Homo sapiens: one gene and its partner. The protein of the gene in region 2 interacts with the protein of the main gene of each other region in a pairwise test. Each region holds a gene or a part of one and is shown on either strand. Other genes may lie near its edges.

The links.
Region 1: the proteins of DPCD (region 2) and RUVBL2 interact in binary tests that used the Homo sapiens proteins (3 or more experiments, as listed by UniProt).

What each region holds. Positions count from the first base shown.
Region 1 is NC_000019.10:49,013,613-49,016,721, reverse strand, and holds the end of RUVBL2 (ruvB-like 2), read right to left. Parts: intron 2,239-3,109; coding exon 2,119-2,238; intron 1,702-2,118; coding exon 1,572-1,701; intron 1,151-1,571; coding exon 1,036-1,150; intron 906-1,035; coding exon 880-905; 3' UTR 752-879; downstream 1-751. Other genes in the region: LHB (lutropin subunit beta), read left to right, coding at 1-175, 412-654. UniProt on the Homo sapiens protein: Possesses single-stranded DNA-stimulated ATPase and ATP-dependent DNA helicase (5' to 3') activity; hexamerization is thought to be critical for ATP hydrolysis and adjacent subunits in the ring-like structure contribute to the ATPase activity.
Region 2 is NC_000010.11:101,594,704-101,598,520, reverse strand, and holds part of DPCD (protein DPCD), read right to left. Parts: coding exon 3,783-3,817; intron 1,929-3,782; coding exon of another isoform or gene 1,882-1,928; exon of another isoform or gene 507-1,881; intron 1-506. UniProt on the Homo sapiens protein: May play a role in the formation or function of ciliated cells.

The DNA of each region.
Region 1 (3,109 bases), on a different chromosome or scaffold from region 2:
GTCCCAGGGGCTGCTGCTGTTGCTGCTGCTGAGCATGGGCGGGGCATGGGCATCCAGGGAGCCGCTTCGGCCATGGTGCCACCCCATCAATGCCATCCTGGCTGTCGAGAAGGAGGGCTGCCCAGTGTGCATCACCGTCAACACCACCATCTGTGCCGGCTACTGCCCCACCATGGTGAGCTGCCTGGGGCCAGGGGCAGATGCTGCCACCTCAGGGCCAGACCCACAGAGGCAGCGGGGGAGGAAGGGTGGTCTGCCTCTCTGGCCTGCGGTTGGGGAATGGGGTGTGGGAAGGCAGGAACAGAGGGCTTCCTGGGCTCCTGAGTCCAGGACCTGTGGGGTCAGCTTGGGAGCTCAGCTGAGGCGCTGGCCTCAGGCACATGCTCATTCCCCCACTCACACGGCCTCCAGATGCGCGTGCTGCAGGCGGTCCTGCCGCCCCTGCCTCAGGTGGTGTGCACCTACCGTGATGTGCGCTTCGAGTCCATCCGGCTCCCTGGCTGCCCGCGTGGTGTGGACCCCGTGGTCTCCTTCCCTGTGGCTCTCAGCTGTCGCTGTGGACCCTGCCGCCGCAGCACCTCTGACTGTGGGGGTCCCAAAGACCACCCCTTGACCTGTGACCACCCCCAACTCTCAGGCCTCCTCTTCCTCTAAAGACCCTCCCCGCAGCCTTCCAAGTCCATCCCGACTCCTGGAGCCCTGACACCCCGATCCTCCCACAATAAAGGCTTCTCAATCCGCACTCTGGAGGTGTCTTTCTGTGGGCTCAGGGCAACCACACATACACAGGGTGGGTGCAGCTTCCCAACCATTTTATACAGAGTCACAGTGTCAGAACTCTGGTGGAAAACAGGGTGGGGTCGGGGGATGACATCCAACTCAGGAGGTGTCCATGGTCTCGCCTTCTGTGGGGAGAAGGAAGGCCACATGGTCAGTGTCGCCCAGGTGGCAGGGCCTGAGCCTTCTACGCCGAGCTCCCTCTTCCTCCCTCTGAGGTTGGCTCTGGCAGTGCAGGTGCGGGGTGGGGATTCTTACTGAGTTCGTTGAAGAGGAAGGCGTCCTGGTACTCCTTCATGTACTGCGTGGAGCGGGACTCGTCCAGGAAGAGTGAGTAGACCCGCTTGATGTCATCCACCTGCACTTCTGTACCCTGGAGGGGGAGGGCGAGTCCTCAGTTGGGCCCCTCTCCGTGAGGCTCAAGGCACAGACCCCAGCGTATGCCACCTCCATGCTCTAGGCAGCAGAGTGTGGCATGTGAGGGGAGGGCATTCTGGGCCAGATTGCCTGGGTTCAAATCCTGCCTGGCCATCTCCTTGTTGTGGGCCCAGCCTCTTCATTCCTCAGTTTCTTTATCTGTAAGGTGGACCTAACAGCATCTACTTAAGTCAAGAGAGATTTACTGATACCTACTATAGGCCAGGCTGGATGATACAGAAGCCAACCTGAGGGATGAAAATTCCCTGCGTCTGAAAACGTACATTCTAGGATGAAATCGGAACCCTGGAAGCCCCTGAAGTACTGTGTCACTCACTGCCGCCATCTGGCCCTGCTGGCTAATTCGGCCGGCTGACCTTGCGTTTCCGGCACACCAAGCTGGCAGCTGTGATGAGCTGGATGGCGTAGCGCAGTGACGTCTCCAGCCCGATGCGGGTCAGCACCGTGTAGGCGTCCTCACTCATCTCCACATCTTCTTCCTCGCACCTGCAAGCAGTGGGGGACAGGGGTGGCTCAGCCGGGGCCCAGCCTCTGACTGCAGCAGAAGTGGCCACAGCAACCCTCTGGCCCTTCCCCACTGGGAATATGTGGCGCCTGCATCTTAGAACCATAGAATGCTGAGGCTAGAAGAGCCACGGAGACAGGGGCTGGGCTGGACCTAAAACCGAGGCCTCCTGACCACCCCCAGGGCGCTGGCCCCAACACCAGTCACGGGTACCTCGCCTCCCTTTCCCACCGTGGCTCCTGCTCCCGGATCGGAGGCCACCGTCTGGGTGCCCGCTCAGCCCTCTCTCCTGTAGGCCCAGCCACCATGCCACTCCGCTGGACCTCAGTGTCAGCATTTGTCAAACAGGGTAGACCCCAGCCCTGCGTCTCAGGCGCACGGCCTGGTCCTGCCCGCACCGGATGCGGAGGATCTGCTTCGTGTCTTTCTCGCTGTAGGGGGTGGTGGAGACGATAAGCAGCCGGTCCAGCAGGTCTATGGGGATGCCGTGAGGGCTCTGGTAGCTGGTGCCCCGGATTCTGAGGAAGAGGCAGAAAGAGGGGGCTGTCAGGGGCATGTTCCCTCTTCATTCCCTTTGCTGGGAACACTCTCACCTCCCATCGCCACCCACTCACTGGGCCCAACACCACTTAACCTTTAGCTCGCGTCTCCTGTCACATGATGACATCACCCCTGATGACGCAGCCTTCCACAGCTGCGTCAGTCCCCCAAGGGCACCTTTCCGCGGAGCTGGGCTGCTTTAAGCTAGATCTCTGCCTCCAGGATTACTGGATCAAGGTCCCACTCCCGTGCTCGACACAAAGCTTCACAAAGGAGGGGACTGCACCTGTCTTGTTCCCTGCTGCAGCGGGGCCAGCCCAGGGCTGGTGCCAGGGGATACAGTCAGTTCCCCTTATTCACAGTAGTGAGGTTCTAGAAAGTCATCGTGAACACTCCAATTAGCTGATCCTGAGCCACTGCTCCTACTGGAATACAGGGTTAGGCTCTCTCGAGCCTCGGCTTACAGTATTTTCATCAATCCATATATATATAATCTGGGTCTATGCGTATTTTCATTTGTGTGTTTCTGGTCTTTTTGGTTTGTTTTTTGAGACGGAGTCTCGCTCTGTTGCGAGGCTGGAGTGCAGTGGCGCGATCTCGGCTCACTGCAACCTCCGCCTCCCGGGTTCAACCGATCCTCCTGCCTCAGCCTCCCAAGTAGCTGGGTCTACAGGCGCACGCCATCACGCCCAGCTAGTTTTTTCTATTTTTAATACAGACAGGGTTTCACCATGTTGGCCGGGACGGTCTCATTCTCTTGACCTCGTGATCCACCCACCTCGGCCTCCCAAAGTGCTGGGATTACAGGTGTGAGCTACCGCGCCTGGCCTCATGTATGTGTGTTTCTAT
Region 2 (3,817 bases):
GAAACAGACTATGAAGAATTACTGAGGCTCAAGGAGACAATCTTACAAATGCCACGGCTAAACTCCAGGTCTCCTAACTCCAAATCCAGAATTTGAATTATTAATAAAACTTTATTCTGAAAGTGTTCAATAAGCACATGTAATATTTTGAAAGGTTTCTGTTTTTTTTTAAGTAGCTCAATTTATTTTTTATATTTGGCCTTTAAAGGGTAAGCTTTGATTATCTGAAAAAGTAAATTATGAGGACTACCTCACGACCTAGGGCTGGATAAGTGAGGTGCCCCTGTAAGTCATGGGCCTTGCTAAAATGGGTGTCCTAATGCATAATAATGCACCAAGGTGGCCTGGAGGGACGACAACCACCCCAGGGTTTTCTGTGCACTTTTACTCCAAAAAATTTTGAGTTTTACACAGAAAACTTCCCAAGAAGTACTCAAAGAAGGAAGAAAGTCAGCTGCTGATTTCCTTACTTCTGACCTTAAAAACCACTCAGGGAACTTGACACCTCTGGCTGCTTCACCTTTATTTTTTGTTTAAACACCTTGAGAATTAAATTCTTTGTTAGAATGTAGAAGAAAGTCTCCTTTCCCATTCCCTCTAGAGATAAGACCCAATAAAAGATTTTGGGGAAGTCCTTCTTATTTTTCCTATGCACAAGTGCATGGGTGTGAACACACATGTACAAATGCACACTTTGTCTTGTCTTTCTTGCCCCCGTCTTTGTTTCTGAACTCAAGGACGGCTCCTGCGGCAACAGAAGACTGTTTCCATCTGCTGTCACTCTGATTTGATTATATGTTAAACCCAAACTGGTGTGAGGCAGCTTCCCGGGACGCTGTCATATCTTCCCAGCTGAGCCCCAGCCAGACCTTGGAAAAGAGACTTTCCACCCCGGTGAAGAGTCTGATGGGGAATATATAAAGGAGGTGGCGCCTGGGGGCTTTTTCCTAAATCAGCAGGAAGCAGGCTGATGTCCCAGACTGCTGAAAGGAGGCCCCATCTTTCAGGTGGGCTGGAAAGTAGAAGTCCTAAAGGCCTCTTTCCCCAAAGCTCCAAACCCTGGCCCACTTCCAATGTGGATAATTACATTCCCCTTCCCTAAATGTTCCCTGCAGCTTCAACTGGATGCAGGATTCTTCTTTTCTGCCTTAAAACACTGCAACATTGCTATGTGGCAATTAAACAGCTGCCATGTCCCATCCCAGAGGAGGCCGAAGGGAATCGAGTGGGTCATTTATAAAGCCAGTGAAGTGCTTGGGGATGAAAGTGCTCAATATCCTCCAAATGCAGCCTGGGGTGGTTAGGCTGGCGGTCAAATACCAAAGCAGATTAAGTCGGTAATCCGAATGTAATCGCTGGGGGATGGCCTGCCCTTCAGCCTCAGCCCCCTTGGACATGCTGTGTTCTTCTCAGGCTGGTTTGATGTTCCGATCATTGTTGTGGGGCCTTCAGTTTTTTCCTCTATGAATACATGCAGCAATCATTGTGGGGGGTGGGAATGAATAGCACTGAGAGGGTAGGAAAAAAACAGGACACTAACATGCTTATTAACACCGACGGGAGGAACTCTGTCCCAGACTGACGCACACCTATTGGCAATTCTTCCTCTGTAAATTACTTTGAATTTTTCTAACAGAAAACTGGTTTGGCTAATTATCAAATTTGTATACTTAGCTAGAAAAATGGAAACTATTCCTATTTATTGCCACAAAAACCATGTCCCTACTTTACTTCATAGAATGCACAAGCAAAAGCCAGCTCAACCCCTGGGATTATTTATACTTAAAAATTAATAATGGAGAGTATTTTGCCAGGGCAGCAGTGGTGGATAGGAAGAAGAGTAAGAAAAAGATCTGCTGTTCTAGAGCTGGGCCCAGTGGCTCAAGTGAGGTCCTCCTGTCTGCCCATCAGTCCACACTCAGGCCTTTCTGGGGAAAGAAAAACAGTAAGAAGAAAAGAAAGTTGGATTTAAGTGTTCTCAACTCCCAGCACTATGTTGTTGAGGACTAAAGCATGGGCTCTTAATTGGACAGAACTAGGCTTAAATCCTGGCTTAGAAACTAGCTACATAATTCTCAACAAGGTGCTTAACCTCTTTGAGCTTCCATTTTTTCCAAATGTAAAATGGAGACAAGAGTATCTACCTCATAGGGCTTTAACGAGGACGAGTAAATGAGGTAATTCACGTAGAGCACTTAGCATGGTGCCCAGTAAGAGTCACGCTATTAATATCATTATTAGGTCAACTTTAGCCAAACAGTGTTCTCCTGTGAACAGTCTTCTCCATTTCTGCTTTTAAGAAAGAGGAGTTTGGAAGCCATGGTCTATTCCCCACCTGCCACTAGGAGAAGTGACAGGTTAATAAGGGATATCAGGGCACATGGTGCTACAAATGAAGAAACCTGGACTTGTTTTTAATTTCAGTTTCATATCCAAGCACAACAAAGAGGCCTGGGTTTTATTTGTTTGTTTTTACAGCCGCAGCAGCTATAGCTGTTTTATTTGCTCTGTGTGGAGGAGTAGAGAAGTGGCACGGGGGGCTGGGAGTGAGGAGCTGCGGCTATTCTCTGGCCTGGTTATGGTGGTGGCTAGTCCACGTGACCTCTGCTTTCATAAGTTCTCCCCTGTTAGGCATTCCAAGGCTGTCATCCCCTGGGAGCACTATAAATTACAATGCATTGTGAGGATATTACTACTGTATTGGTTTCCACCGAATCAGTGTCATATGCTAAACACATCAAGATTTTTAATAGCACCAGACTAAACCAACTGGGACTGGAGCCCAAGCAGCTCATAATAAGGAGGGATCAACACTTCACTGTGCGACTGAACATGCGCAGGACAAACATTTTAAGACTGGAGACTGAGGGAATGCAAGCCCGTGTAATCCATGTTGTCGGTTCTAGACATTTATGAGCTGTCAGAAAAAAGGAAAAAGAAATTCCCTCACCAATACTACCTGTCGATCAGGCCCAGGAAGAAATTAAAGCCAAGAATAATGACAAGAAAATAAACCAGCCTGTGATTCCATCATTGGTCTTAGCATTTCAGATGGAACTTAATAAAGAGACCAACTCCCACTGCTGACAGCCTTGGGCCCTGGGTCAAAGAGCCAGCCACCTAGCTCTGGGAAGCTGGTTAATGCTGATGTGCACACCTGGGAACAGAGTGGACAAATCAAATAATTCCCAGAAATCTGAGCTGGAGCCCCTACCCATGAGCCTGTTCTTAGAGGAAAGGCGCTGCAGGAATGAAAGTGACCACGCTGCAAAATCACTGTTTTGACCCTCTTTGACTGAGATGTTCTTCAAAATAAGGACCATATTTTATAGTGTTGCCTTTGAGGCAAGCTCAGAAGCTCTGCCTCTGATACTCGCTTGCTCCTGGTGTGGCTTTAGAAAACAAAACAAACAAACAAAAAAACAAGGAAAAACAAATTGTGAAAGTCTGCCCTTATCCCTCCTAAACCTACAAGGCTCACTTCCAATACCACCTCCTCTGTAAAGTTTTTTCCCAACTGTTTCTCTACATCTTAGAATTACTCCCTCTCTCATTTGTCTGGGGTGAGGGGTGGGGATGAATTTTACTGGTCAAAAGGACTCGCATTCCACTTTTGGTGCCCAGATTATGCTCAGGAACGTTGTTGTCTCGAGGGCTTCCGTCTCTCCCAGCCTCTACATTTGATCTGGGCTCCTACCTCAAGCCTAAGGCTAGGAGTGTTCATTGTGCTTATGTCAGCCCCAAGTATTACTAAAGGCCCACTGGGAGCCTCTGTCACTTACCAAGTAGTTCACTCGTCTTCTCGTCATATTCTTCA